Linked DNA regions of Homo sapiens. The protein of the gene in region 2 interacts with the protein of the main gene of each other region in a biochemical or structural test. Each region holds a gene or a part of one and is shown on either strand. Other genes may lie near its edges.

What was found.
Region 1: the proteins of EPB41 (region 2) and NUMA1 form a complex in vitro, tested with the Homo sapiens proteins (one study listed by BioGRID).
Region 3: the proteins of EPB41 (region 2) and SPTB form a complex in vitro, tested with the Homo sapiens proteins (one study listed by BioGRID).
Region 4: the proteins of EPB41 (region 2) and CPAP form a complex in vitro, tested with the Homo sapiens proteins (one study listed by BioGRID).

Annotation. Positions count from the first base shown.
Region 1 is NC_000011.10:72,002,073-72,008,116, reverse strand, and holds the end of NUMA1 (nuclear mitotic apparatus protein 1), read left to right. Parts: coding exon of another isoform or gene 1-25; exon of another isoform or gene 26-681; coding exon 682-928; exon of another isoform or gene 929-1,853; coding exon 1,854-2,082; exon of another isoform or gene 2,083-2,572; intron 2,573-2,747; coding exon 2,748-2,884; intron 2,885-3,300; coding exon 3,301-3,477; intron 3,478-3,775; coding exon 3,776-3,892; intron 3,893-4,017; coding exon 4,018-4,230; intron 4,231-4,578; coding exon 4,579-4,590; 3' UTR 4,591-5,253; downstream 5,254-6,044. UniProt on the Homo sapiens protein: Microtubule (MT)-binding protein that plays a role in the formation and maintenance of the spindle poles and the alignement and the segregation of chromosomes during mitotic cell division.
Region 2 is NC_000001.11:28,909,369-28,917,969, forward strand, and holds the start of EPB41 (protein 4.1), read left to right. Parts: upstream 1-5,200; 5' UTR 5,201-5,400; intron 5,401-8,601. UniProt on the Homo sapiens protein: Protein 4.1 is a major structural element of the erythrocyte membrane skeleton. It plays a key role in regulating membrane physical properties of mechanical stability and deformability by stabilizing spectrin-actin interaction. Recruits DLG1 to membranes.
Region 3 is NC_000014.9:64,771,326-64,779,190, reverse strand, and holds part of SPTB (spectrin beta chain, erythrocytic), read left to right. Parts: coding exon 1-34; intron 35-3,439; coding exon of another isoform or gene 3,440-3,541; exon of another isoform or gene 3,542-3,772; intron 3,773-3,787; coding exon 3,788-4,066; intron 4,067-4,663; coding exon 4,664-4,794; intron 4,795-5,766; coding exon 5,767-5,971; intron 5,972-6,236; coding exon 6,237-6,611; intron 6,612-7,865.
Region 4 is NC_000013.11:24,898,687-24,906,551, reverse strand, and holds part of CPAP (centrosomal P4.1-associated protein), read left to right. Parts: coding exon 1-1,206; intron 1,207-2,493; coding exon 2,494-2,626; intron 2,627-6,967; coding exon 6,968-7,133; intron 7,134-7,865. UniProt on the Homo sapiens protein: Plays an important role in cell division and centrosome function by participating in centriole duplication. Inhibits microtubule nucleation from the centrosome. Involved in the regulation of slow processive growth of centriolar microtubules.

The DNA.
Region 1 (6,044 bases), on a different chromosome or scaffold from region 2:
ATTTGTCCCCCAACAACCCTCTGAGGTAGGTTTATTCTGTCTCCTTTAACAGATGAATCTGGGGCATAGAGGGGCAGTCACTTGCCCAAGGTTCCCCAGTGGTAGAGCTGGGGTTTGACCCTGGGCAGCCTGGCCTGAGTTCTTGGCTTGTCACCACTCATCTTCCTCTGTCAGTGCCATGATGAGTCTAGGTGAGAGGAGATGAAGCAGACCAGGGAAAGGACATGAGCATGGAGTGGGGTGTGGTTAGGAGCTGTTCAGGAAGCTTGGTGATTGGGCTCGCCAAGCAGGACGACATTGGATTATGCCCACGTTCATGGCTTGGGGGCCTGAGTGGGGGGCGTTCCTATTCACTGAAATGGGAGATGCAGGAGGAAGAACAGAGAAGTGGGCTTAGATTGGGACGTGTTTGCTGTGAAGCAGCCATGGGCATCTGGTGGGGATGGGACATCTGGGTCTGGGCATTGCCACTATGAGGAGCTATTAGGAGAAGCCAGGGGAGTGGACTGAAAGGAAGGCCCAGGTCAAGTGCTTTCCTTGGTACCTCTGAAAAATCAGAGAGATGGGCTGCTTGACCTCATCTGCTTGTAGTAAGGATGGGAAATGGTCACTTTCAAAAAGGGCTGGACAAAATGCCTTCTAGCGTGAAGGACTGTACCTCAGCAGGTTTCCTTTCCATAGCAAGCTGCCTCGTACCCAGCCAGACGGCACCAGCGTCCCTGGAGAACCAGCCTCACCTATCTCCCAGCGCCTGCCCCCCAAGGTAGAATCCCTGGAGAGTCTCTACTTCACTCCCATCCCTGCTCGGAGTCAGGCCCCCCTGGAGAGCAGCCTGGACTCCCTGGGAGACGTCTTCCTGGACTCGGGTCGTAAGACCCGCTCCGCTCGTCGGCGCACCACGCAGATCATCAACATCACCATGACCAAGGTCAGGCTGCTGGGACAGGGGCTGCAGGGCAGCAATTCCCACTTCCTCTCAAGGGCATCTTTGCACTGGGCACTCAGTCAGGAGCAGGGAGGGATGAGCAGCCAGTCCATGTTACAGTGGGAAAGCTGAGAGGTCTTAAAAAGGGCAGTGACTTGGTTAAGGGCACTTCTGAAGAAAAAGGCAGGGCTAGGATTAGATCCCTGCCTCCTGACTAAGGCTAGCATTCTCTCCATGCGTAGCACTGAGCCTGTGCAGGGTGAAGGGAGAGAACGTGGCGAAGCTGCAGCCCATCCTGTGCCTCCCAGCATGCCCCATGCAGCTGAGAGGCATTGTTGCTGCCCAGTGGACTGCCTGACAGGCTACAGGCCCTTGCCTTTGTTTCCACATCTTGAAGGGGAGGTTTGGGAGGAGGGGAGAGGGGCCCCTGGTACAGCAGGGGGGACCTGTGTGTTTAGGGTGCCCCCTGCTACCAAGAAGTTGGGGAAGTTCTGGAACATGGTAAGGGCCCTGGAAGTTTGGACTGAGGGACAGCAGAGGCTGTGGGATGAGCCTGACTAGTCAGGAGACATGGGGCCTAGCCCCAGCTCTGATACTTCCTAGCAGTGTGATTTGGGGCTAGTCACTTTATTTCTTTGCACTTCATCTCCAAAATGGGCCGATAAACACTCTGCATTCCCTACCTCAAAGCATTATGAATAGACTCCATGAAAAAAATGCGTAGAAGAGTCTTGACAACATCAGCACCACCTTGTGAGGGCTTCTGTCGACAAGGCCCATTTCTTGCAGACACACACTTTAAGGACCTTTGCAAAGCAGTTGGGAATACATGGATGTGCCGTGGGATCTGAGGGCTTCGGAAGGGAATGGGAAGCTTCTGTACAGTGCCAGGGACTGTACACTGCAACAGATTCACTCTGTCTTCCAGAAGCTAGATGTGGAAGAGCCAGACAGCGCCAACTCATCGTTCTACAGCACGCGGTCTGCTCCTGCTTCCCAGGCTAGCCTGCGAGCCACCTCCTCTACTCAGTCTCTAGCTCGCCTGGGTTCTCCCGATTATGGCAACTCAGCCCTGCTCAGCTTGCCTGGCTACCGCCCCACCACTCGCAGTTCTGCTCGTCGTTCCCAGGCCGGGGTGTCCAGTGGGGCCCCTCCAGGTGAGGGGACTACAGGGACTTACTATACCCCAAAATTAGACTGGAAGGTGGATCGTGGCACAGGGAAAAGAGGAAAGCTTTTTAAAAATCCAAGGCTGGCCTCCTTGCTACCATCCAGCTCCACCTGCCCCTCCTTCCTGCAGCCTCAGGGCCTTCCTTACCTGCCCATCTAGGGGCTGGCTGTGTTGGGGGCACTCTTAGCCAGAGTTAAGGGCCCGGGATTCCCAGCACAATTGTGACACTTAGCTGTGGGGAGTCCTCCATGCCCTTCTCAGGCGGTGATGGGCTGCTGGAAAGGCCAGGCTGGCCAGACTCTTCTTGGAAGCTCTTGTCCTTTGGGCACCAGGGAGCCCCTGGGAATTAATTCCCGGTCCTTAATTTGTTCCTCTGGGTGTTGGCCACCAAGCCTTGGCAGGTGAGTAAGATGTAGTAGCAGTCTCTGCGTGTGACCTCTTCTGCCCTCTCCAGGGAGAAGGTGGTGAGCAAGCCCCTAGGATAGAAATAGTCTGTGTGCCGTACTCCTGCACCTGCGGCACTGAATCAGACTGGTGTGCTGGGCTTCAAGTTTATGGGGTAGGTGGCAGCAAAGGCTGGCAAGATGCCAGGGCCAGGAGGTGACCTGCCGACTCCAGGCTCATTTGTTCCCACTTCCCTGCCTTCCACAGGAAGGAACAGCTTCTACATGGGCACTTGCCAGGATGAGCCTGAGCAGCTGGATGACTGGAACCGCATTGCAGAGCTGCAGCAGCGCAATCGAGTGTGCCCCCCACATCTGAAGACCTGCTATCCCCTGGAGTCCAGGGTGAGGCCTGGGGTCACTGTGCAGGGCCTCCCATCCCTGCCCTCCCTTGGAATCCCACCTGCTGATCTAGCCTGAGCACTAGGGCCCTGGATCACTGACTGGCCGAGGAGGGGGAGGGTGACCTTCTCATGTTTCCAGGTGGAACAGACAGCTGGGAGGGCACTCAGGGGTGAAGTCCCTTGGGGTAGGCAGGAGCTCAGAGAGGAATCTGGTCAGGACTGCACTGCTTGTGGCCATTTGCCCAGGGCTTAGGTAGAAAGCAGAACAGGAAAGGAGGCCTTGTGTCTTTCTACCTCGTGAGGCAGGAAGGGTCCCGACCATAAGTGTCGGGCGAGTGTAGAGTTCTGGGACAGCCCCAGGTCCTCCTCCATCTCCATACAGCTATGGTCCACTGACCACCTCTTCCACCCATGCAGCCTTCCCTGAGCCTGGGCACCATCACAGATGAGGAGATGAAAACTGGAGACCCCCAAGAGACCCTGCGCCGAGCCAGCATGCAGCCAATCCAGATAGCCGAGGGCACTGGCATCACCACCCGGCAGCAGCGCAAACGGGTCTCCCTAGAGCCCCACCAGGGCCCTGGAACTCCTGAGGTAGGCGCGGTGGCTCCTGGGTGTTACTCCAGCACTGTGCTCAGGTCAGGCCCAGCTCACCAAGGACTAAAGGGAGCCTTCTCTCTCCTTCCCTCACTTCCCCCTCTCTTTCCCTCTCTCCAAGGGCCTGACCCATGGATGGGAACTGTTGGGAAGGGAAGGATCTGGCCCAGAGTTGGGAAGGGGAGCAGGTTGCACGTTGACTTACAAGGTCCACTCAGCTCTGAGAGGACAAGACACCTGGCTTCAGATGTGACTCCTCTTGCTACTGTCTGCCTAACTGTCCTCTTCTCCATAGTCTAAGAAGGCCACCAGCTGTTTCCCACGCCCCATGACTCCCCGAGACCGACATGAAGGGCGCAAACAGAGCACTACTGAGGCCCAGAAGAAAGCAGCTCCAGCTTCTACTAAACAGGTGAGGCTGGGGCTGAAGGGGGATGAAGCGACGCCCTGGCGGGACCTTGCTGATAGAGCGTGGCACAGCACGCTGGCCTGGGAAGGCAGCATTGGGTCTCCCGGTCTGACAGCCCTTCCTTGCAGGCTGACCGGCGCCAGTCGATGGCCTTCAGCATCCTCAACACACCCAAGAAGCTAGGGAACAGCCTTCTGCGGCGGGGAGCCTCAAAGAAGGCCCTGTCCAAGGCTTCCCCCAACACTCGCAGTGGAACCCGCCGTTCTCCGCGCATTGCCACCACCACAGCCAGCGCCGCCACTGCTGCCGCCATTGGTGCCACCCCTCGAGCCAAGGGCAAGGTAGAGGCACTGGCAGGATGGGGGAGGGAAACCCGATGAGAGCATGGGCACCCCCCAGACCGCCCCACCAAGTAGCATCCAAGATGGGGCCACGCCAGGCTGCTGGAGGGTGTGGGGTAAGAGGTGTCCCTGTCCTGGTAGCTCCTCTCCAAGGAGAGAAGACAGATGGCCCCATTCTCATGGAGAGCACCCAGAGCTGCTCAGGCACAGCCAGCAACTGATAACCCTGGGGCTCACAAGGGAGGGGATCCAGACAGGGGCGTGGGAGCAGGAAGAGATCTTCCCAGCCAGTGGGTGCAGGCTAGTATCGCAAGTTCTCATCTGGCCATGTGACTGTGTCTCTTTCAGGCAAAGCACTAAAGGGCCAGTACCAGTGAGTGGCCCCACCTGTGTCCCCGATGCTGACCTCACCTGGTCCTCCGCCTACTGTCCCTCTCAGTGCCTTCTCTCAGCTCCCAGGCCAACAGTAGCCAAACCCCTAGAGACAGTGATGCCTGCCCGCACCCTGGCCTGGTCCCTGGTCCTTCACTGGCGCCTTCTCGGAGCTGGCCCAGGGGGCCTGGAGCATGGACAGTGTGGGCGCTCTCCCTACCTTGCCTCCTTTTTTCTTAAAGCAAAGTCACTTCTCCATCACAACCAGATTTGAGGCTGGTTTTGATGGCTGGGTCCTTGGGCCTGGCCAGTCTTCCTCTTAGCCTCTGGATCTAGAAGGGACCATAAGAGGAGTAGGCCCTGGTTCCTGCTGTCCTGGTGGCTGGGCCCAGCAGGGGCCCTCACTCTTGAAGTCCAGGACTGGGTCTGACCTGGTGGGAGCACCTGCCAGAGGATGCTCTTTCCCAGGACGGATGGGCCCTATGTCTCAGGAGTGGGGTTGGGGGACAGCCTTCAGCAGCAGCTCACACCCTACCTTCCCCAGACTTGCACTGGGGTGGGATTTGGAGTGATGGGAAGGTTTTTAAGGGCCGGGGATGGATCTTTTCTAAATGTTATTACTTGTAAATAAAGTCTATTTTTCTCCCGTGAGTACTGAGTTGACTTGATCGGTGTGGGAAAAAGAGGAATATAGGCTCTTTGAAGCCTACCTTGTTCCTGCTGAGTCTTCCATACCACCTCCTTTCTCTCATCCCTTTTCCTGAGGCCACATCTTTCCAGGCTCTTCCCACTCTCCATTAGTGGCCTCTGCTCCCGGGGAGCATTATGGGCTGTTCTCTCTTTTCTTTTTCAAGCGCCTGTGTTCCCCTGAAGCAGGTGTTGTCTTCAGCTTCTGTGTGGCAGTCCCTCTCTCCCATACTCCCTCGTGGGACAGGCAAAGTTCCTGGGAGTGGAACTGAAGCCTAAATGAACAGATGTCAGGATGCCTCCATTGAATAATCCTTTATGAGGACCCATGTGGGGATGACACAGATACAGTGTGGATCCGAAGCAGCTGCTGCCCCCATCCCTTCCCTGGAACAGTCCATTAGAGTGAAGGGGGAAAAAAAAAACATACAGCACGAAGATAGGAAGTCTGCAGAATGCGGCCAGAGCTGAAAGAGGATGACTTCACTGAAGAGGCAGCATTTCAACCAGGCTTGAGCGTTCCCCTGCTGGGGCGGTGAGGAAGACGGGACTAAATGAGCAGAGACATGGGAGTGGGAGCTGTCTGGGAAAAGCAAGAATAGTTGGGAGGCTTCCAGAAAGTCATGTGGGAAATGCAGGTAGGGCCCTGGAGTGCAAGGCTAAGGCATCAACAGTCTTGGTGGTTTCTGAGCAGTAGAGCAGTGTGAGGAGTAGGACGTTAGGAAGGCTAATGGATAGGTGGAGAGAGAATGGCA
Region 2 (8,601 bases):
GAGGTGGGTGGTTTGCTTGAGCCCATGAGTTCAAAGCTACAGTGAGTTATAATTGCACAGCTGCACTCCAGCCTGGGCAACAGAGTGAGACCCTATATCTTGAAAAAATAAATAAATAATAAAATAAATAAAAAAATAAAAATAAGGCTGGGTGCAGTGGCTCACGCTTGTAATCCCAGCACTCTGTGAGGCCAAGGTGGGAGGACTGCTTGAGCCCAGGAGTTCAAGACTAGTCTCCACAACATAGGGAGACCTCATCTCTACCAACAATAAAATAAAAAATTATCTGGGTGTGGTGGCATATACCTGTAGTCCCAGCTACTCAGGAGGCTGAGGAGGCAGGATTGCTGGAGCTCAGGGAAAGGCTGCTGTGAGCCATGATTGTGCCACTGTACTCCAGCTTGGGTGACAGAGTGAGATCTTGTCTCAAAAATAGATAAATACAATAGATAGATAGATAGATAGTATACATAAGGGTGGGTGTGGTGTCTCATGCTTGAGACCAGGAGTTCGAGACCAGTGTGGGTAACACTATGAGACCCTGTCTGTACCAAAAAATTAAAAAATTTGGTGGACATGATGGCATGCCTGTAGTCCCAGCTACCTGGGAGGCTGAGGTGGGAGGATCACATCACTTGAGCCCAGGAGGTCGAGGCTGCAGTGAGCTGTGGTCATGCTACTGTACACCAGCCTGGGTAACAGAGTGAGACCACTGTCTCAAAAAAAAAAAAAAGTGTACGTATAAGAAAAGGTACTAGAAGGGAAGGTCCCAAAATATTGATGGTAGTTATTTTTGACTGGTGGCTTTATAGTGACTTACATTTTTTCTTGTGTTTCTAAATTTTCTATGAACAATTCAAGTACTACTAGTAAAATTAATCCCCATCCCACTGTATGAATGGTAATTCCCATCCCATTATAGCCTGTTTGATTTATCATTTGTGTTTACAAGTCTAAAATAACTGTGATTTTTTATCCTGCCATAGGCAGGATGGCAAGCACTACTCTTCATATACTTTTGGTACCAGCATCAGTTTTCATTCAACAGTACTGTTCAGAACACTTTGTTGGTGGGCCCAGCTTTTCAAAGCCCTCTTCAATCTCTTGCCACCCTCCACAACAGACACAGGGCTTCAGGCCAGCTGTGTCCCTAATCCGCCCACGTCCCAGATTTGGGTATGGTTTCCCCGCCCCTCCCCGCTTTCTTCCAGTCTCATCTCTACCAGGTCATCTGAGGCCTCATCTACACTCCCTGGCCTTCCCCACTGGTCACCACCTAATTTCACCATCTAATTTCACCCTCTTATGTGCAGCTGGTGTTTGCTTTTGCTTGGGCTCAGTTTGCTGTGGGGAAGGATTAAGACCCTTTCACACTGTCTTTTTTTTTCTTTTTCTCTTTTGCTTACTGCCCTTGACTGCTCCAGGGGCTAACAGGCAGCTAGCGGGGCCTGTATTCCCTAGGAAGGAACACAAGGGGTAGGGGGTGGGGAGGTAATGGTGGGCTCAGCTGGCAGGCGAGATAGAGATGGTCCTTAGGGACCCCATCCTGGGGCTTGGGGCATAGCACAGCTGCCACCCAGATGTGAGCATGGAGCAGAGCTGTTTCTGCCTTGGAAATTAGCCTCAGAGACGGTGCTTGGGACCTTTACCCTTGGTACCTGATGGCAGTCTCTGCAGGGTGAGCTGGGACTGGATACCTGGTTTGCAGAAGTCTGAGAGGGCAGATGGGCCCAGGAGTAAAGGTAGTTTTTCCACCTTCATATTAGGCATTACTTATACCCCCACATCTTCCTATGTGATAGGCCTGGCAACACTCAGAGATTGGGCACTTAGCCTAACAACTGAAGATGTGTGTCTAAAATAACAAAAATTCCTCATGTGTGGATAGTACTTTACAGTTTACAAAGCCCTTTCATCTCCAGGCTAAGAATTAAAAGCCAGCACTGGAATTCAGGTCTTTCAGATTCTAAAGCCTGAGTCAATGGATTATGGTGTGTTATTGCATGGCACTCTGAATTTCAGAGTAGTTCATACCTGCCTTGTGTCTAGCCTTTTGCTGTTAGCCTGAGACCTCTACTTATTTGCAGAGTAAGGATTATTAAATGCTACATATTCTTTGCATCCAATTAGATGTGCCATTGGCTAGCACTTCATGGCATAGAGAATACTGGGCTTTCATGAATCTGAATTTGCTGGATAACTTGGTGGTGGTGGAGATGGTAAACCACTGGTAATTGGTCTTCTATACTCATCCTTCAAGGTACCAGATTTTCCTGTCTGATTGGTGAAGGAAGCCTGAGGCACAGAGGTGGTAGGACTAGAACTCTGAATAAAAAGCACAGCTGAACCTGAGGACTTGAGGCAGGAGACCAGAGTATTTAAGAACAGGTGTGGCCAGGCATGGTGGCTCATGCCTGTAATCCCAGCACTTTGGGATGCTGAGGTGGGTGGATCACCTGAGGCTGGGGGTTCGAGACCAGCCTGACCAACATGGAGAAACCCCATCTCTATTAACAATACAAAATTAGCCAGGCGTGGTGCACATGCCTGTAATCCCAGCTACTCACGAGGCTGAGGCAGGAGAATCGCTTGAACCTGGGAGGCAGAGGTTGCAGTGAGGTGAGGCGAGATCGTGCCATTGCACTCCAGCCTGGGCAAAAAGAGCGAAACCCCTTCTCAAAAAAAAACAGGTGCTTCACCCCTCATACACAGAATGACCCTGGCCAAGTCACCTGACCTCACTAAGACTCAGTTTCCTTATATGTAAAATGAGGATGTTCATTAACTCATTCAACAAATATTTATTGAGCGTATACTGTTCTGGGAGATGAATACAGATACAGTCCCTGCCTTCCTGAGCTTGCAGTCTAGTGGGTCTAGATTACAGCAATTTATTTGAGAGGCACAATAAATAATAAATATATAGTAGAAAGTCAAGTAGGGTAAGTGCTATGAAGCAAATTAAAGCAGGATAAGGGTGTTTGAGTGGAGGGTGTTTTAGATGGTATAGTCAGGTGGTTTTCAAGGGGTTTTATGATGTTTCAAATGGACAATTTACATAACGTGCTCAGCTCAGTGCTAACAACAATTGCATGCTTAACAAATATATTATTATATTTGCCAGTTCCACACCTCTCAGTCCACATTTTAGTCTCTGAATAGTAATAATAATTAACACACATAGATCTTACTATGAGCTAGGCACTGCTCTAAGTCCTTTACATATTTTAACTCATTTAATTCTGTTTTCCTTTTTCTTTTTTTTGAGATGGAGTCTTGCTCTTGTCACCCAACCTGGAGTTCAATGGCATGATCTCGGCTCTCTGCAACCTCCACCTCCTGGGTTCAAGTGATTCTCCTGCCTCAACCTCCGAGAATAACTGAGATTACAGGTGCCTGCCACCAGGCCCAGCTAAGTTTTGTATTTTTAGTAGAGATGGGGTTTCACCATTTGGCCAGGCTGGTCTCGAACTCCTGACCTCAGGTGATCCGCCTGCCTCAGCCTCCCAAAGTTCTGGGATTACAGGCATGAGCCACCATGCCTGGCCTAATTCTTACAGTAACTCTGTGAGGTGGGAACTATTATTATCCTTCTCCCTCCCCCAACCCTCGTTTTTGTTTTTAGGGATGGAGTCTTGCTCTGTTGCCCAAGCTGGAGTGGAATGGCATGATCCTAGCTCACTGTGGCCTTGAACTCCTGTGCTTGAGCAATCCTCCCACCTCAGCCTCCCACTATAGGTGGGAGTCCCAGCTACTTGGACATATTATCCCCTTTTATGGTGTTGAAAAATGAGGCACAGCCGGGCGCGGTGGCTCAAGCCTGTAATCCCAGCACTTTGGGAGGCCGAGAAGGGCGGATCACGAGGTCAGGAGATCGAGACTAACACGGTGAAACCCCGTCTCTACTAAAAATACAAAAATTAGCTGGGCGTGGTGGTACACGCCTGTAGTCCCAGCTACTCGGGAGGCTGAGGCAGGAGAATCGCTTGAACCCGGGAGGCAGAGGTTGCAGTGAGCCGAGATTCCGGCACCGCACTCCAGCCTGGTGACAGAGCGAGACTCCGTCTCAAATAAATAAATAAATAAATAAAAGAAAAATGAAAATCAAACCATTAGAAAAGGCTGGAGACTAAGAATTGAACCCAGGCAATCTGTTTCCAGAGGCTGTGCTGGGATCGTGAAGGGGCTGTGATTAGATATCAGGAATGTCTAGCTGGCATCTACAGACTCTGCTGTCAGATGGCCTGGCTTCTTATCCTGTCAGTTTTAAGTCTCTCTGCTTCAGTTTCCTCATCTCTAAAATAGAACACCAGATCCTATCTTACCTTCTAGGTATCATGCTTAAAACAAAAGCCTTCTTTCTGCACTGTGGGTCCGAAGCCTGTTCACAGACCAGCCTAGCAGGGAGTAGGAAGGGTCAAGGGGTCTCTGACACTTCTGGAAGGAAATAAAGACACACTAAGCAATTGTCAGAGCAACCCTCAGTTCATCTGGAGACCAGACCTCGGAAGCTAGGTCTTTATAATGTTGAGATTGCCAGGGGGGAATTAGGAGATCCTTAAATGCAGAAGACAGGTTCAATCTTGGCGTGGTCTCAACACTTAGCTTCCATTTCAGGCCTTACACAGCTGGCACGAGAGGTAAAGTCTCATCGAATGTCAGGGTTGGAAGGGCGCCTAGAGACAGTCAAACTAGTGGATGGGGAAACTGAGGTACAGAGAAGCTGAGTGACTTACCCGAGGTCACTAAGCGTTTAGGGGGAGTCAGTTGGGGTAGCCTGGCTACAACCTCTACGCGAGTTACTTCCCTGAGGCTTCCAAATCTCGGCCTCTTACTTGGAAGGAGGAAAGGGCCTCACCGTCCAGGGCTCTAGCTGCCTCATGCCCCACGTGGGTGCTGCGGGATCCCGGAACACCCCGGCTCCAGACCGGGTTCGACTTGCGCGTGCGCACACGCGGCCAGCCCCTTGCCTTTTCCTCTCTCTTTTTCGTTCCCCTCTCCTCTCCTTACCGGCCTAGGGGAGGGGGGAAACAAGGGGAGCTAGAAGTTGGCCTCAGCCAATGGGCGGACGGGCCGCGGGCCCGGCCCCCTCCTTCCCTCCGGCGCGGCCCAATAGAAATTTACTACAATGTTGTGGCGAACTGAGGGGGAGGGGCGCGGGCCGGCGGGCGGGCTGCGGGCCGGGCTGGCCTCGCCTCGCAGAGGGAAGGCGGGAGGGCGCGCGCCAGGGTCGCTCGCTCGCTCCCTCCCTCCGCTGGTGCGTTTAGTCAGTCAGCCAGCAGCAGCCGGCGGGCCCGCGAGCCGCAGAGGGCCCGAGCCTCGGACGCCGGCGCCTCCTCCTGCCATTGTTCGTCGGGCTGCAGCAGTGGCGGGCGCAGGAGCCCGGCCCCGGAGCCACCGGTGAGGCGAGGCGGCGGCGGCGGCGCGGGAGCCGGGGCGGTGGGCGTGGAGCTGTCCCCGTGGGGACGGTCCTGGCGGCCGCGGCGGCGCTGCAGCCTCTTTGTCTGCAACCCCCGACAGGCCCCGGGCCGGGGCGCGGGCTCTCCCGCGGAGGAGCCTCGTGTGCACGCCGAGTCGCCAGCCGGGACGCGGCCCGAGGAGCGAGGGGCGGGCCAGAGCCGCTGAGGAAAGGGGAAGGGGTTGCGTCGCGGGAGTGTTGGAAAGTTAGGCTTGAGATGTATTTTTGACGGTCCCCTCGGGTGCGTCAATCACGGTGCGGTGTGCAGGAGCCTCGGGAGGAAACCAAATGCGGAGAATCGCAGGTTTCAGACGGTGAAGGTGTTGCGTGCAGCCGCGGAGCGATTTCTTCCTGGCGAGGGAGCTGGGCTGTCTGCAGAAGTCAGGCGGAATCTGAGGACTGCAGGGAGCCCTGGCAAGACTTCGCAGGCCTTCCCGCCACCGACGCCTGCATCATTGAAAAACATGTTCCCCCTTAGTCTTCTGGGTTCCCAGCGAGCAGAGGGTTAAATCTATTCTCTCAGCGTCGTGACCTCCTTTTTCAGTTCGCGCATCTGTCGGCTTGGAAATCTTCCTCCGTGCTCGCTGGGCTGCTGTACCTGTGGAGAGGCCGGGTCTGGGCTCGCCCTCCGAGATTGACCAGCAGGCCATTATTCCTGGGGAGGTTTTGCCAAAACAGGTCATGCTCCCCAAGAACAGGCATTCTCTTGAGAAAAAGTGATCTCACGTGAAACAGATTGCTGATGGACTGGTTTCTGGCCACATGATAGCGACTGTCATCCTGTTGTTTCTTTAACTGTACCCTGTACCCTGCCATAAATGACTAGTCTGTGGAGACTTGTTTTTTGGCATGTAGTTGTTCATTAGGAGATAGTTTTTTCTTTTTCCTTTTTTTTTTTCAGATGCTTTTTTTTTTTTTTTTTTTTGTAGTCTGGGTGATTTCACAGCTGCTATTTTCTTCCCTTCTGTTTTTAGGGAAAATTGCAAGAAATGGTTGTGTCTTGTGTCTTGGATATTATTATAGTGGATTTATACTCTCTTGAGGATGTACTGTAGTCAATGCTGTTGCTCATTGTTGTTTTCTGTATTCTCAGTCCTGGCAAAAATTTTAGTTGGTTTGATCCCTTTAATCAAAAGCAGGATATATAGCCCGTATATGTTTCTTCCCGTCCCAGTTTTGTTAATGTAGCACTAACCCCTACTTTTTATGGAAACTTGATGTACTCTTCATTTTCCTTTTCTGTAAATTGAAAGTGTAATCAGTTCTTCGCCAGTTGTAAAATTTTTGGTTTGGGGTGTTATTAATATAATCCATGTAGCGTACATGCTATCTGGCGTACAGTAAGCACTCAATAAATGGCAGATTCAAAAATAGATGTAATAACTGAACACCAGATTGCCTTAGAATCAAAGTAGTTAATTCAGTGTGCTTTCTATAAGAAGCTTATAATTAAGGTAAATATAGATATTATTCATACACCTGGGGAAACAAGTACAGTATATCTTTGGCACTATTAAAAGTGAACTATGTCGGGCACGGTGGCTCACGCCTGTAATCCCAGCACTTTGGGAGGCCAAGGCGGGTGGATCACTTGAGGTCAGGAGTTCGAGACTAGCCTGGCCAGCATGGTGAAACCCCATCTGTACTAAAAATGCAAAAAAGTAGCTGGGTGTGGTGGCATGTGCCTGTAATCCCACCTACTCAGTAGGTGGAGGCAGGAGAATCGCTTGAACCTAGGAGGCGGAGGTTGCAGTGAGCCGAGATTGCACCACTGCACTTCAACCTGGGCAACAGAGCAAAACTGTCTCAAAAAAAGGTGAACTCATTGTTGAACATAAGTTCAGAATGCCAACCTTCTGATTCCTCTGTCTTCTACCAACAAAACTATACATTTTTCCTTGTATGTTTGAATTCAGGCTTAGAAATAAATGTTTTTAATCTGTAGGTTTTACCAAAATTCTCCCAACAATTTTTTTTTTTTTTAAACAGGGTCTCATTCTGTCACCCAGGCTGGAGTGCAGTGGCATGATCACGGCTCACTGCAGCCTTAAACTCCTGGGCTCAAGTGATCCTCCTGCCTCAGCCTCCCTAGTAGCTGGGACTATAGGCGTGTGCCCCCATGCTTGGCTAATGTCTTTTTATTTTTTGTAGAGACAGTCTCACTATGTTGCCTAGGGTGGTCTTGAATTCCTGGACTCAAGAGATCCTCCTCCCTGGGCCTCCCAAAGTGCTGGGATTACAGATGTGAGCCACCTCACCCGGCCTCTCCCAACATTTATTAAGTGTTTTATACCAAATGTCTTGTAAGTTCTTATGCAATATGGCTACAATCTACCTTTCCACCTTTATTCTCCTTATTTTTTGTATTGTGCAACCAAATAGAACTACTCTGTAATAACCCTTGCTTTGCCATCTCTCTCTCTGTGTGTGTGTGTGTGTGTATGTGTGTGTGTGTATTTATTTATTTATTTTGAGATGGAGTCTTACTCTGTCACACAGGCTGGAGTGCAGTGGCATGATCTCAGCTCACTGCAACCTCCACCTCCTGGATTTAAGCAATTCTCCTGGCTCAGGCTCCCAAGTAGCTGGGATTACAGGCGCTTGCCATCATGCCCACCTAACTTTTGTATTTTTAGTAGAGTTGGGGTTTCACCATGTTGGTCAGTATGGTCTCGATTTCTTGACCTCGTGATCCACCCGCCTCGGCCTTCCAAAGTGCTGGGATTACAGGCATGAGCCACCGTGCCTGGCCCTGTATACATATGTTTTTAGAGACAGGGATCTTACCTTGTTGCCCAAGCTGGAGGGCAGTGGCATGATCCTGGCTCACTGCCGCCTTGAACTCCTGGGTTCAAGTGATTCTCCCACCTGAGCCTCCTGAGCAGCTGGGACTACAGACGTGCACCACCATGCCCAGCTTTTTTTTTTCGTTTTTAAAACACGGGGTCCTGCTATTGTTTCCCAGGCTGGTCTCAAACTGCTGGTCTCAAACTCCTGAGCTCAAATGATCGTCTCACCTCTGCTTCCAAAAGTGCTGGGATTACAGACATGAGTCACTGTGCCCAGCTTAGTCTGTATTACAGACATGAGCCACCATGCCTGGTGTGTAATTGTTGGTGTGAATGATAGAGTTTGCTTACTTT
Region 3 (7,865 bases), on a different chromosome or scaffold from region 2:
GCAAACTGTGCAACTGTTCATGAAGAAGAACCAGGTGAGTCCTGCGTCACCTCACCAGCCCCACCCACCCCTCCTCACCCCCACCTGGCCCCACGGGGGTAGGCCCAGCCCTGACCTGCAGAAGGCTAGCAACAGCAGATTATTGTTCTTGTTGGTAGCTTTGGGGTCTCCAAACCGTATTGGTAATCTTATAGCAGAAAGAGCAGGTTTTTGTGATTACAGAGCAAATTCTGGGAGGATCACAGAGGAGGGGAGGTAGTTGGGGATTCAGGGCCATTCAGCCTCCATCAGGCACAGGTGAATGCAGGATCTCGGGGGCCTGGCCTGGAGGTTGATGTGCTTCAGTAGCTGTGTATTCGGTGTATCCAGTGGTCTGCCTGAGAGGAGGGCAGTAACTCCTGATCTCTCTCCCACAACACTGCCTTGCCCCTCTTCCAGGGCTGAGCTTGGCATGTGTGGTGTCCTTGGGGTAAGTAGGCCCCATTTCTCTCGACATATGAGGATACTTGTGGGGCTCAAATTCCATTAGGAAGCCACTAACTTTGGACTCTGAGCCCTTGGAGCAAACATCCCTCTGCTTTTTGGCACTCGCTTAGCCCTGATTGGGAACTCCTGTGGCCCTGGTCAGGATCCTGGATGTGAGCAGATGCCAAGCACTCCCTCTTGGGTCAGGGCTGCAGTGGGAGCCTGAATCATGTAAGGAAGCTGGCTGTGTGGGGTCGCAGCGGCCAGGGGAATGGCCACAGACCCTTCTTGGACAGAGAGACCCTCCCTCTGCATGCTCTCTGGGTCAGCAAGGAGAGCCCAGGAACTTAGATCCCAGATAAAAGTGACATGTCCCAGAGTGCCCGGTTAGTATTGCAGCTCCTTGAGGAAGGAAGGTCATGGCAGACAGCACTCCCTTCCCCCAGCTTGGCAGCAGCTGACATCTGCTCACAGGACCATGTGAGCCCAGCAGCAGTGCAGAGGCCTAGATTATATTCAGAGAAGTTTCTTCAAAGCTGCCTTAGGCCCTTTGCTTCTGGTTGACATGATCTAGTCGCAGAGGCTCCAGCAGCCACACGCAGGGACCTGGGCTAGAAGATGATAGAAATCTAGCCTCAGTTAATGCCACAACCTTCAGCTAAAGGTGGAAGGCTGGTAGGACATGGTATCCTTGGGACCTCAGTTTCCTTAATTGTAAAATGAGCCAACTCTAGTCTTTCCAACACTAGGATTTTTGATTCTATGCAGCCTCTGTAAGTGTTATTGTTCAAAGGTTTTTAACTCCCCTGGCTGGCAGTTGCTATTTCGGGAAAAGGGCAAGACAAATACGGATGGGGTTCCCCTAACCAAGAAGGGAAAGGCAGCCTCTTGGGACAGCGTGACTGCCCTAATGAAGACTATTTTAGGCTCACCTGGCTAAACCATAAATCCAATTTTATCATTTCCTCACCTAAAACCCTCTGTTGCAATGGTTGTCAAACTCCAATATGCAACTCCTTTAACAAGCCTTCTGGGTGAGTTTACACGACTTAACCAGGTGCCACCCCCAGATCCCTACTGCATCAAGCTCTGGGGGTAGAGCCTAATAATTTGCATTTCCAACAAGATCCTAGGTGATGCCGATGCTGCTGGTTCAGGACTGCACTTTGGGGACCACTGTTCCCAGGGCTATTCATTGCAATTAGAACAAATTCCACAAGGTAGTACATGAAGGGCTCTCACCCCTGGCTGTACACTCACATCACCTAGGGAACTTTTAGACAGATGAATGCCCAGGTCTCACCTCAGATCAATTAGGATCTCTGGGGGTAGGCCCCTAGCTGCATCTGTTTCCCTGGATTATTCAGTGGGCAATCAGGATTAAGAACCACTCTTGCCTGACCTGACCCCTGCCTGCTTCTGAAACTCAGCTCTTCTCACTTTGCCCTCCTTCACAGTATTCCAGCTCTTCTGGCCCTCTCTGTGGCCTCAGACGGTCCCAGCTCATGTCCACCCCAGAGCCTTTGCACTTGTTCAGTCCTCTTGCCAGGAACACTCAACCCCAGATCTCTGTGTGGTTGCCTCCCTCCCGTCATTCATGTCATGGTCAAGTTTCGTATCCTCAGAGAGGCCCTCCCTGACTCCCTTAGCTAAAGTGGCTCCTGCCACATCGCAGCAGACATTCTCCATCCCACTGTTGTCTTTTCCTCGTAGCCCCCAGGGAGGAAGGCCCAGCCTTTGTTTATTCATTTATTTGCATGTTTACCTTCTATTTCCTCTACCAGGTTGTAAGCTTTAAAGTGCAGGGATTTTCATTTCTCTTGTTTCTATATTGTCCCTATTACCTAGACCAGGGTCTGGTACATAGAAAAGAACTTAATACATAGTTGTTGAATGAATGAAGACAGGGAAGAAGACTTTAAATGTAAGTACCCTGCACAGATACTAGAAAGTAATTGGTTAAAAAGGAAGAAATACCCTTTTAGGCCGGGCGCAGTGGTTCACACCCGTAATCCCAGCACTTTGGGAGGCCGAAGCGGGTGGATCGCCTGAGCCCAGGAGTTTGAGACCAGCCTGGGCAACATGGCAAAAGCCCATCTCTACAAAAAATACAAAAAATTAGCCAGATGTGGTGGTACATACCTGTAGTCCAAGCTACTTGGGAGGCTGAGGTGGGAGAATCATCTGAGCCTGGGAAGTTGAGGCTCAGTGAGCTGATTGTGCCACTGCACTCCAGCCTGGGTGACTAGAGTGAGACCCTATCTTAAAAAAAAGAAATTAATTTTTAGGGCACCATGCAGAGGTCATAAGATCTCAGAGTAAACAAGCAAATGGAGCTGAAAACATGGGTTGTTTGAATGCAACTGCAGAGACTATAGGAAATTGTAAAAATTGAGGTTCTGAGCATAAAGTGTAAAAATGCATTTCAGCAGGTTATGTGACTTGTAGATGTGGTTATTTTGTGCATATTTTAAATGCTGGCCATCACTGTGCTGCTCATGTGGGCTGCTCTTGCCCCTGCCTTCCAATTTTAAAGGCCACAGGAAAATTATATAGAGAGGGAAGAAACAGGTAGTGAGGTATATGGAGCTCAGGAGCCCACACACCAGCAGCAGCTAGCCCAGTCTTTAGGACCCAGAAAACAAGTAACACGTGTCAGGGCCTCCTGAAGAAAAAGGTGACCAGCCACCAGGGTGGGAGGAAGAGGCTGTGTTCATGACCAAAGGCTCAAACAGGGACTAATGCAAAGCTCACAAAAATATGAGAAATAGAAGTAGGGAAAAACAAAAGCTGAGACTGTAAGCAAGGGGCTGCTGTCACCTGTTCTTTTAGATGGAAGGCAAAAACTGTGCCCACCTGAGCTGCTGGGTTGGGCGTATCCTGCGTAAATGATCCTGCATAAATCCTGCAAAAGCTGTTAGAATAAGGTATCAAAAAGGCCATTTTTCTTTTCCTTCCAACACATACACCTAAGGAATCAAGCTCTGCTGAAGCACAGGAAGATAGGGGACAGTCAAGAGCACAGGCTGCCAGGTCAGGTGGAGCTGTGTTCAACTCCGGCTCTGCCACTGAGTGACTTCACTGCTGCATGCTGGTCTCCACATGCTTATCTCAGCAGGCCACCTGAGGGTGCAAGAATGGTGCACATGAGGTGCTTAGCAGCCCGCAAGAGGTCATTGGTAGTTCTTATCGCCATCACCTGCTCTGCTCTAGCAACGGGGGTGAGAGGGACCAAGGGTGTCAGAGCTGTGCTGCCACTGCTGAAGCAGCCTCCCCCGCATGGTGGGAAGGCCCTGCCCCGAGCCCTTCCTTCTGGCCGCAGACACTGCAGAATGAGATTCTGGGCCATACGCCGCGGGTTGAGGATGTGCTGCAGAGAGGGCAGCAGCTGGTGGAGGCGGCGGAGATCGACTGCCAGGACCTTGAGGAGCGCCTGGGGCACCTGCAGAGCTCCTGGGACAGGCTGCGGGAGGCAGCGGCCGGGAGGCTGCAGCGACTGAGGGACGCCAACGAGGCACAGCAGTACTACCTGGATGCAGACGAGGCTGAGGCCTGGATTGGCGAGCAGGAGCTCTACGTCATCTCCGATGAGATCCCCAAGGTCTGTTCGGGCAGGGGATACCAGCCAGGGTGCCCAGGCAGAGAGGAAGAGTTGAGGTTGGCTGTCGGTAGGGAGCCTTGTGAGTCCAACTGTGTGAGGAGTGAGGCCAGGGGAGGGGCACAAGGAACCCACAGACTCCCTGCCCTCCCTTGGTGCCTCCTTGAACACACCCCTGCAGGGCACACACTGAAGCCAGGTGCCTCCTGTTTACCCACTTAGGTTTGCTCTAACCCAAGGGTTCTCTACTTTTCTTTACCCTGGATTCTGTACGCTATGAAAGAGATGGGGTGAGAGGTGACAGGTGGGGGTCTCTCAAAGCTGGAATGATATAGGATGTTTTCATGGGGACAGGGGTTAGAGCACAAAAGGAAGGGTATATGTCGGATACGAATCAGGGGAGTCCAGAGAGGAAGGTAGGGCACGGGCATTGCTGGGAAATCAGAAGGGCAGGAAGGAAGCATGTGTGGCTCTCCTGCGGGTGTCCCACAAGCCTACTCCCCTCCTCCCTCGGGCACCTCCAGGAGTGGGGGCACAACTTGCCAAGGGAGGGATCATGGCCAGACTGAGCTCTGGCGCTGACCGTCTGCTGCCTCCTAGGATGAAGAGGGCGCCATTGTGATGCTGAAGCGACATTTGCGGCAGCAGCGTGCGGTGGAGGACTACGGCCGGAACATCAAGCAGCTGGCCAGCCGGGCCCAGGGCCTGCTGTCTGCAGGCCACCCTGAGGGGTGCGTGCGCCCCCTGTGGTGACTCGGTCAGGAGATGGGGATTGAGCCAGGGGCCCACCAGCCAACGTCCCTTCAGATTTAAAAGGAAAATGGAAAGAGTTTTCCCATCAAATAGGGCTGGAGAAAATTGCTGCGGGACTGGTGATGGATCCAATTTCATTTTATGCCTTGGTTTTGTGTGAATCACTTCCAGCTGGGCCATCGAGGCCCTGGTTTTCGAAATGATCAGAGAAGGGGTTAGCAAAACTACCCTCTTGGTGACCTGAGAGCACCAATTTTCCGAAGGGTTACAATATGCTAAGGGACACTGAAGACTACTTTAGCTTTTATTTTTATGGTCCAGAAGGTCTCCAGGACTTCACAGTCCAGACAGAACCATGATGTAGGAGTGCAGGTGGAAACCTGTGCCCACATGGGCTGCGAGGTTTTGTGGATCCTGCATAAATGGAAGCCCACTGGGCCACAGACCACACACTGCCCCCAGCCATGGCCCTGTCCTCAGCTGCCATTAGGGTGCCCACCACTGTGGGTCCTCAGCAGCCACCCCAGAGGTTTCCCTGGGAGCCACATTGTCTGGGCCCCTAGTATGTCTTTTCCCTCCCTGGAGGGCTGAGCAGAGCTGTTGCTGCGGGAGCCCCACTCAGGTAGTGCTGCTCCCCCAGCCTCTCTGGAAGAACAATGGAGGCGTTCCCCATTTGCACTTGTCCCTGTAAGCTTGCCAGAGTGAGGGGCACCATGGGAAGCACCCCTCCAGGACAGAATTCCAGGACACAGTGTGTCATCCCCTGAGGCTAGGGTGTGGCCCCTTCTCTCCCCAGCTCTTCCCCGGCAAAGCCCCTGTCATTTCTCCAGAGCTTCACTCCCTACCTATCCCTGCCAGGGGGCTGTGGTTGGCATATGTTGGCTCCCTGGAGCCACGGCTCTGGGTTCGTGGCTGCCGTCTCTGAGGGCCTTTTTGGTTTTGAATTCCAGGGAACAGATCATCAGACTTCAGGGGCAAGTGGACAAGCACTACGCAGGGCTGAAGGACGTGGCGGAAGAGCGCAAGCGCAAGCTGGAGAACATGTACCACCTGTTCCAGCTCAAGCGGGAGACCGACGACCTGGAGCAGTGGATTTCAGAAAAGGAGCTAGTGGCCTCTTCCCCGGAAATGGGGCAAGACTTTGACCACGTGACTGTGAGTAGCCACAACTCCTGCTGTTTTTGTCTTTCTCTAATGCGGTAGACGCAGCCAGCCGTCACTCAAGACACACAGAGTGCTGCATAGGACGTAACCTCCCCAGTGTGAGGCGGGACCAGCCGATGCAGGCCTGCCCTGGGGAAGGTGTGACAGCGCAGCTCCCGGAGCTGCAGTTGCTGCCTGGGAAAGTCTTTGGCTAAGCTGGTGACACCTGTAACCCCTGTGCCCCCCATAACCACATTTCTGTCTGCCCCATGCCTAGCTTCTGCGGGACAAGTTCCGGGACTTTGCCCGGGAGACCGGGGCGATTGGGCAGGAGCGGGTGGACAATGTGAATGCCTTCATCGAGCGACTCATCGACGCGGGCCACAGCGAGGCGGCCACCATCGCCGAGTGGAAGGACGGGCTGAACGAGATGTGGGCAGACCTCCTGGAGCTCATTGACACGCGCATGCAGCTGCTGGCCGCCTCCTATGACCTGCACCGCTACTTCTACACGGGTGCCGAGATCCTGGGCCTCATCGACGAGAAGCACCGCGAGCTGCCCGAGGACGTGGGGCTGGACGCCAGCACGGCCGAGTCCTTCCACCGGGTGCACACAGCCTTCGAGCGGGAGCTCCACCTGCTGGGTGTCCAGGTACCTTCAGCCCCCTGCCGCCCACCTGCTACCAATTTCCAGGAGCCCTGGGTGTCAGTCCCCACCTGGCTGTCAGCAGGAAAACCTCTAGGATAAGTGCCAGGAGGTTTTGCCTCCTTAGACAGCCAGGAGCTCAGGGCTGGGAGCAGTGGCTTTCAGATGTTCCTTAGCTTCAGAAGTCATTCTTTAAACTGAATCCTCACAAAAGGCCAATGCATACAATACTATACGGTTGCAGTTTCTCCAGTTGTGCAGTACTATTAGTGGACACACGCACAGCACTTTTCTAGCACCAGGTGCTCTTCTGAGCAATGTATGTAGCCGCTGGACCCTCATGGCAGTCCTCTGAGGCAGCTACTAATATTCCCTGCACTTTGTAGATGAGAAAAGGGAGAGGTAGAAGACCCATAAGTTTCCCAGGAACATGTAGGTACGAAGTGGAGCCAGGGCTCAGACCCTGGCAGTCTAGCTATAGACCCCACATACTTAGCCACCGGGCACTTCAGCCTTTCCACATGGGAGCTGGAGAGCCCCCAAGTTCTACTGTTCAGACCCCTGCCCCATCACTGGAGTGCCCTCCGCAGATCCGTAGGGTGCCCCAGAGCTTGGTGTGATAGAAAGGGCAAATGCAAGGGGGCCCCTGTTGCTGAGGGCTCCCCCAGCTTCCAGTGCAGCAGGGAGAGGTAGGCTGGCTGCGCAATCCCAGGCCAGCCCTGCAGGGCTTGGGGACAGAACACCAGGGTTGGCTGGGCCCCTGGTTCATCCAAAAGGGGACCTCTTAGGGAAGTGTCCTCCAGCTGGAGTGGAGGGCCTGGTGTGTGGCTGTTGCATTTGGGGATGCCAGGGCCCCTGAGATAGGTGTAGCCCCACTGAGGTCTTAGGAGTGAGGTTTCACTGTCCCCAGGGCCAGCCTCAATCAGGGGATCTGGTGCAACCACTTCCTTGGAGAGGCAGCACACAGAATGGTTAAGAACGGGGACTCAGGAGCACGGTGCAAATCCCAGCTGTACCCCTTTACTAGTGTGAAGGACCCTGGACCAGTTACTTAGCTTCCTTGTGCCTCGTTTTCCCCATCTCAGAAACAGCAATAGTAATAGTACCTCCTTCCTGGGTTTGTTGGAAAGACGAAGAGAGTTCATCAGTAGAAAGTGTTTAGAACAGTGCCTGATATGTAGTTCCTCTCATTAGTGTATTGTTGAGGAGATCAAAGGGCAGGATTTCCTCTCACTCCCAAACCTTCACAAAGTTCAAGAG
Region 4 (7,865 bases), on a different chromosome or scaffold from region 2:
CATCTAATAATAAAGAAAATGTAACTGAGTGTCCAAAACCTTGCGATACTGGCTGCACAGGGTGGAATAAGACACAAGGTAAAGACAGACTTCCTCTTTCAACAGGGCCGGCCAGCCGGCTGGCTGCTAAGAGCCCCATAAGGGAGACCATGAAAGAGTCTGAATCTTCTCTTGACGTTTCTCTTCAGAAAAAGTTAGAGACTTGGGAACGAGAAAAGGAAAAGGAAAATTTGGAATTAGATGAATTTTTGTTTTTAGAACAAGCTGCTGATGAAATATCATTTTCTAGTAATTCCTCATTTGTACTGAAAATCTTAGAAAGGGATCAACAGATCTGCAAAGGTCACCGGATGTCTTCCACCCCTGTCAAAGCTGTGCCACAGAAGACAAATCCGGCAGATCCCATTAGTCATTGTAACCGCAGTGAGGATTTGGACCACACTGCACGTGAGAAGGAGAGTGAGTGTGAAGTCGCACCCAAACAACTTCATTCATTGTCCTCAGCTGATGAATTGAGGGAACAGCCTTGTAAAATCAGGAAAGCCGTCCAAAAGAGCACTTCTGAAAATCAGACTGAATGGAATGCACGTGACGATGAAGGTGTTCCAAATAGTGACAGTAGCACTGACTCTGAGGAACAGCTTGATGTTACCATAAAACCATCGACTGAGGATAGAGAGAGGGGCATCAGCAGCAGAGAGGATAGCCCACAAGTCTGTGATGATAAGGGGCCTTTTAAGGACACCAGGACCCAAGAAGATAAAAGGAGAGATGTTGATCTGGATTTGTCTGATAAAGATTACAGTAGCGATGAGTCTATCATGGAAAGCATAAAACATAAAGTGTCTGAGCCCTCGAGATCCTCATCCCTAAGTCTGAGTAAAATGGACTTTGATGATGAAAGAACTTGGACTGACCTTGAAGAGAATTTGTGTAACCATGATGTTGTTCTTGGGAATGAATCCACTTATGGGACGCCGCAGACATGCTACCCTAATAATGAAATAGGTATCCTGGACAAAACAATAAAAAGGAAGATTGCACCAGTCAAGAGGGGAGAAGACTTGAGCAAGTCCAGGAGGAGCAGAAGTCCTCCTACATCGGAGCTGATGATGAAATTCTTTCCTTCTTTGAAACCAAAACCAAAGTCAGATTCACACTTGGGAAATGAACTCAAGTTAAACATAAGTCAAGACCAACCACCTGGTGAGTCAGAGCATTATAAAATATGTATCAGAATGTTAGAAATTTAACATTAATCAGTATGCTGTCAGAATGCTTAAAATCCTAACTTTCCTTATTGCTCAATAGAATTAAGTCAAATTAATGGGTGATTTGTAAAAATTTGATTTATTTTATGGGTCTATATGAGGCTTTAAAATTAATTAGTTTTTAATAAAGTGAGATAACATCAAAGCTTCTACGTTTCCTTTCTTCCCCAGACCTGGTTCAAGTACCCCTTCCTAGAGGTACCAGTATTACCATTTCGTTTGTGTATTCTAAAGAGTCCGTGCATATAAAAGCATATGTGTCAGTTTGTATATAATTACCTTTCTATACAAATGAAAAGACTCTTTTTGTATACTGTCCTGCACCTTGCTTATGATAAATTTTGAAGATTGTTCTAACGCATGTACACACCTACCTCATTCCATTTAACGGATGTGTAGTATTTCTGTTGATGTAACGGACTTTTTAAACTCACCCTGAAAGATTCCTTTCCATTATATTATATTATAAACTAGCAGAGCATAGGTGCTTTAAAATAGAAATTAAAATAGAAATTATAACGTTAATTTTCAAAAATTCTGATTTTAAAAGTAATTTTTTTGTACAAAGTTTGGAAGCTTAAAAAGCATAGAAGCAAAAATATTTACAACTTAACTACCCAAAAGTAACTGCTATGCCATTTTGGGATATTTCATTCCAGTCATTTTTTCTATGTAGTTTTAATATGACAGAGTTGTATAACTTAGCTCATTTCTTTAGCCTTGTGGATCACATTTAGTTTCTAAAAAAGTACTAATTGATAAAAATGCTTGAAGGACAGAAGCACTGGCTATTTTACATTTTAAATAGCAAATTTGATAAAGGGAAAACAATTTGCATTTATTTGATTAATAGTAGGGGTAAACTTTGATTTTGGTGTTGATTAGCTCTTCAGATCTCTTGTGGATTACTTATTCTTAAGCTATTTATATATATTCGTCTTTGAAAAATTGATTTGAATGATTTCTTTTTATGTATCATGTTGATTCCTTGTCAGGTCGATACTCTTTTGAGGTAGATTAATTCTTCCATAAATTCCCACTGATTTCCTCAGGAAAGTTAGGTTTAATTTTTTTTCCTTTTCATGTTTGAAGCATTGTTTCTAATGCATTTTAATAGCACAGATGTTTGCCATATTCTTGGCTCTTAGTGTTACTAGCTAGCTAGTGTTTTTGCTGCAGTAATGCCTTTTTTGAAGTTCAGTATTTATGGCCTATTTCATAGGTGACAATGCTCGATCCCAGGTTTTGAGAGAGAAAATTATTGAATTGGAAACAGAAATAGAAAAGTTTAAAGCTGAGAACGCATCTTTAGCTAAACTTCGCATTGAACGAGAAAGTGCCTTGGAAAAACTCAGGTACGTTTGGGTCTGTAAGTTGGGAAAAAATATGCAGTGACTCAGTTATACCTTTAAGACCATCTATAAACAGTCTGAAACAATTTAAATCAGTCAAACAAATATAATTGAAAAGGAGGTGAAATCTGTATCATATAAGTTTTTTTTACTGAATAAAATGACCCAGGGTAGTCAATGATGTGTACAAAGGGGAATTTTTCTTAGTGGAGAGATCATAAATTAAAATTTGAAAAACAGTTTGGAGCTATGGTACCTTCAAGTGGTACTTTGGCTAGTTAGTGTATTGGTTTCTCTGGGCTGCTGTAACAAAGTACCAGCAACTGGGTGGCTTTAAACAATAGAAATGTATTTTCTTGTGATTCTGGAGGCTGTAAGTCCAAAGTCCGGGCATCAGCAAGGCGGGCCATGCTGGCTCCTCCAGCTTCTGGTGGTTTCAGGCACACGTTGGTATTTCTTGGATTGCAGCTACATCACTCCAGTCTCTGCCTCTGTGGTCACATGGCCATCTTCCCTCTGTGTGTGTCTTCACATGGCATTCTCCTCTGTGTGTGTTTGTCTTGGTGCCTCTTTTAAGGATAGGGTCATATTGGTTTAAGGGCCCACCCTACTCCAGTATAACGTCATCTTAACTGGCATCTTAATTGTATCTGCAAAGGCACTATTCACAGGGATTGGGACTTCAACATATTGTTTTAGAGGACACAACTCCACCTACAGCAGTCGATAGTATGACATATCGTCTCCTACCCTAGGTCATGATCTTACCTGACTTTATTGGTTAGCAAAACTTGAACTGAACTTACATGAGGCTATTTATATATGTTATATTTATTATTTCTCTCTATATAAATTTTACGTAGACATATTTTTTAATTGTACTTGTGAATAGTACTAAGTTCTGTTGCAGGAACATACTAGTACTTTTTATTCCAGGTGTTGCTCTGGGTCTTGTTGGGGATATTATATGTCACATACACACCGTATTTCTTTGTTTTTTGGTATTTGTTATTTTAATGTTTGAGGAGAAATTCATACAACTGTAGTTCCCATGGCTGCCTGCTGCGGGATGGGATCTAGGGGATGGTAGCTGCTATGCAAATGCTGAAATTCACCCAAATTTCCCAGCCTCTTTGTTCTTTAGCACTCCCCAGGATGCTGCAAGTCTTTCGTTAGTGTCCAGAGTTCCGAAGTGGTTGATTCTGACAGGTGCTGCTAGTTCAATAGCTGCTTTGGTGGAGGGACTGATTGTTGGAGCTTCCTACTCCACCATCTTCCTTAACATCTCTTCCGTATTTCTTTTCTAAAACCTGAAAAATATGAATTCTAAAGCACATCTGGCCCCTAAGTTCCAGATAAAGGTTTATAGACAGCTATTAATCCACTTAAAAAGGAAATTCGGTTACTATACTATAATCTGCAGTATGCTTAAAAATCAAATTCTGAAAATTTGTTACTTTTTAATGGAAACATCTTTGTTTTTCAGCTGATACATACTGTAAATGTATGCTTATCATAGTAGTTATGGGTAAAATGTGGAACTTATTCCAATCCGTTCTCCACCCAAGATCACTTTTAAAACGTCTCTGCTTCATTATTTCAAAACGGACATCTTTTTCTTTTAAAGAACATTTAAGTCATAAGATAATGGCTGGGTTTTTGTTTTTTTGTTGTTGTTTTTTGTTTTTTTTTAGCATTTTCCCTATTTCGGTTTTGCTTTGTTCTAAGCAAAATTCAGTCCTCGAATTTAGACATTGTGTTATCCTTCCCAATTGACAGATGAGGAAACTGATGCACTGAGAAGCAAGTTTTTTAAGTTTACCTCCTTAGTCAGTGACAGAGAGCCTCAGTGCCAGCCTAGGCAGTGTGGTTCAGTAGAGCCCTGGGCTCTACTGTATGGGCTCTTTAATCTGCTTTTTATTTTATTTTTATTTTTTTGAGACAGGGTCTGGCTTTATCACCCAGACTGGAGTACAATGGTACAATCTTGGCTCACTGCAACCTCTGCCTCCTGGGCTCAAACCATCCTCCACCTCAGCCTCCTGCGTAGCGGGGACTACAGGCACGCACCACCACGCCCAGCTAATTTTTGTATTTTTGGTAGATACGGGGTTTTGCCATGTTCCCCAGGCTGGTCTTGAACTCCTGGGCTCAAGTGATCCCCCTGCCTTGGCCTCCCAAAGTTCTGGGCTTACAGGCATGAGCTACGATGTCCAGCCTTGCTTTTCATTTCAACAACATAATAGACATCTTACCTATTAGCACGCCCTAGTCTTCTGTATCCTTGAAATGACTGTATTATATGAATGCCACTGTGACTAATCAGTTAATGGAAATTTAGCTTGTTTAGAATTTTCCACATTAGAAATTATTCTGCAGGGAATATCGTCATATGTATAAGACACTTTTTATTTAAAAATCTACTTCCTTGTGATAAATTTTAAGAATGTCCATTGCCCCAGTCAGCATCTGAGGCTTCTTCTCACCCCTTTCCCCATCACTGGAGTTGAGCGTTAGCAGTCTTTCAAATCTTGCCAACCTGATAATTATGCCATCTTTCACCTGCTAAAGTTTGTATTTATTTAATTATTGATAAAGTTGAGCATGCTTTTATATTTAGTGGTCATTTGTGTTTATTTTGTAACTTTCTTTGTGATCTTTGCTCATTTATCAGGATATTTAACTTTCTCAAATGTGCCACAAGTATTCCTCCCCCAGTGTTTGCTTTGACTATATGATTGTGTGCACACGGTCGACATTTTGAATAGTCAGTAAGAATGTCTTTTACCTTTTCTGTCTGCTCTCCCTCCAGTGAGGCAGGGAGAGACTTGTCCGGTCTCAAGGCTTTAAATGCTGTTACGCCCCAGATCCAGTTCTCTCGCCCACATCTCCTATCCCACTGCCTCGTTGTTCTCTCTACCTGGAGAGCTGATGAGTGTTTAAATTGATCATTTAGAAAAAGTGAGCTCCTGACGTTCCCTCCTGAACTTACTCTTCTCTTCTTCTTCCCTGTCTCAGCACATGAGTCTGCTCTTCCATTTGCCCAGTGGAAAATCTTGGAGTCATGCTTGAGTCTTCTCTTGCTCTCTCAGTCCATTTCTAACCCGACTGCTTCACTGCCTCAGAGCTGCCACTCTCCACCAGGACCCCATTGGCTTTCTCTGGTTATTAAATTCACTTCCTAGCAGGTCTCTCTGCTGCCCGCGTCTGTGCTCTTCACACACATCCAGAGCCAGCCTGCGTTTGGACGGTTCATCTGATCAAGGCCTCCTTCCTCTTTTTTTTTGAGATGGAGTTTCACTCTTGTTGCCCAGGCTGGTGTGCAATGGTGCGATCTCGGCTCACTGCAACCTCTACCTCCCAGGTGATTCTCTTGCCTCAGCCTCCCGAGTAGCTGGGATTACAGGCATTCGCCACCATGCCTGGCTAATTTTGTATTTTCAGTAAAGACGGGATTTCTCCATGTTGGTCAGGCTGGTCTCAAACTCCTGACCTCAGGTCCAGCTCCTGGCCTGATCTGCCCGCCTCGGCCTCCCAAAGTGCTGGAATTACAGGAGTGAGCCACCGTGCCTGGCCTGTCTCCTCCTTTTTTGACACCTTCTCCTGCTACCCATCCTTTGCTCACTGTGTTTTAGTCACACTGGCCTCCTGGCTGTTCTTTGAACACCTCAGGCACATTCTTGCCTCAGGGCCTTGGCACTTGCTGCTCCTTCTGCCTGTACTGCTGTGTGTGGACACCCTTGTGACTGGCTCTCTCATTTTCTTCAGGTTTCCTTCATGTTATCTCAGCAAGATAAGCCCTCACATACAACACAGTTTCACCCTCCCACTCTGATATTTTCTAAACTTCTTCCTTGCTTTATTTCTCTTTAATGCTTCTAATATTCCATGTACTTATTTATCTTTATTATCGTCTGTCTTCCAATAGAATGTAAGAAGCTGCATGGGAATACATTTTTTTTTTTTTGAGACAGAGTCTGTCTGTGTCGCCCAGGCTGAAATACAGTGGTGCGATCACAGCTCATTATAACCTTGAATTCCTGGGCTCAAGCCTGCCTCAGCCTCCCAGTGTTGGGATTATAGACTTGAGCCACTGTGCCCAGCTAGAATGTTTGTTTTTTTCACTGTGGTTTCCCCACTACTTCGTCGAATGCCTGATTCATCGTAGGCACCCAATGAATGCTTATTGGATGAATGCTTTAGTGAGTGGATTGGCTGTTATTTCAGGCCTATGGATTGAAGATGAATTCACTAGGACTAGCAGTTACTAGCCTGTCAGCAGGTTCTGCACATCACTGCACTGAGATGGTCTCCTTAGGTGATAACATAGTTTGGTCATTTTAGGAAAGAAATTGCAGACTTCGAACAACAGAAAGCAAAAGAATTAGCTCGAATAGAAGAGTTTAAAAAGGAGGAGATGAGGAAGCTACAAAAGGAACGTAAAGTTTTTGAAAAGTATACTACAGCTGCAAGAACTTTTCCAGATAAAAAGGAACGTGAAGAAATACAGGTATGCTAGTTCTTTATGTTATATTCATGTAAGTTAGTAAAGGTGACAATCTTGTAAGCATCTCAGAGTTATTTCTTATGTCAAAGCAAAACTGTGTATCAATCCATTATTCATTCATTCAGCAAATAATCTGTCTGAGACAGTGTATCAGGAATATCTTTGGTAGTCTGACTTTTAAAGAGTAGAAGATTTCAGTTCTTTTCTTACTAGTAAAGTCTTCCTAGAAAAGACCACGATAATGTCATGGATGAATTAACAAGCCTGGAGTTGGAAATTCACCAGCATTATGTTGTGTTAATCTTTTTGACCTACCACCCACCAAATATTGTTAGTTCTGTTCATTTATCATAATTTATGGCTGTAAATAACCAGGTGTTTAATTCTAAAACTTATAAACTGATAGGCCAGATTATCAGTCTTGTTCATTTCATAGTTAGAAGTGGACATGCTAAAACTATAAACCTTCTAGAAAAAAATAGGTGAATTTATTTACGACATTGGCATATACGAAGATTACTAAGAGAAGACACAACTAACTATAAAAGAAAAAATGGATATATTGGACTTCATCAAAGTTGAGACTTATCAAAAGAGAAATTTAAAATGGCTATCCATTGCTTCTAGTATAAAATGCACCTTCCACTGTCTGTATTTTAATTACTAGCATTTTTGAGTTCCATCCTTTGCTTTCTTCCTGTCTCATGCAGCCATCCTTGAGCAATCTCACCTGCA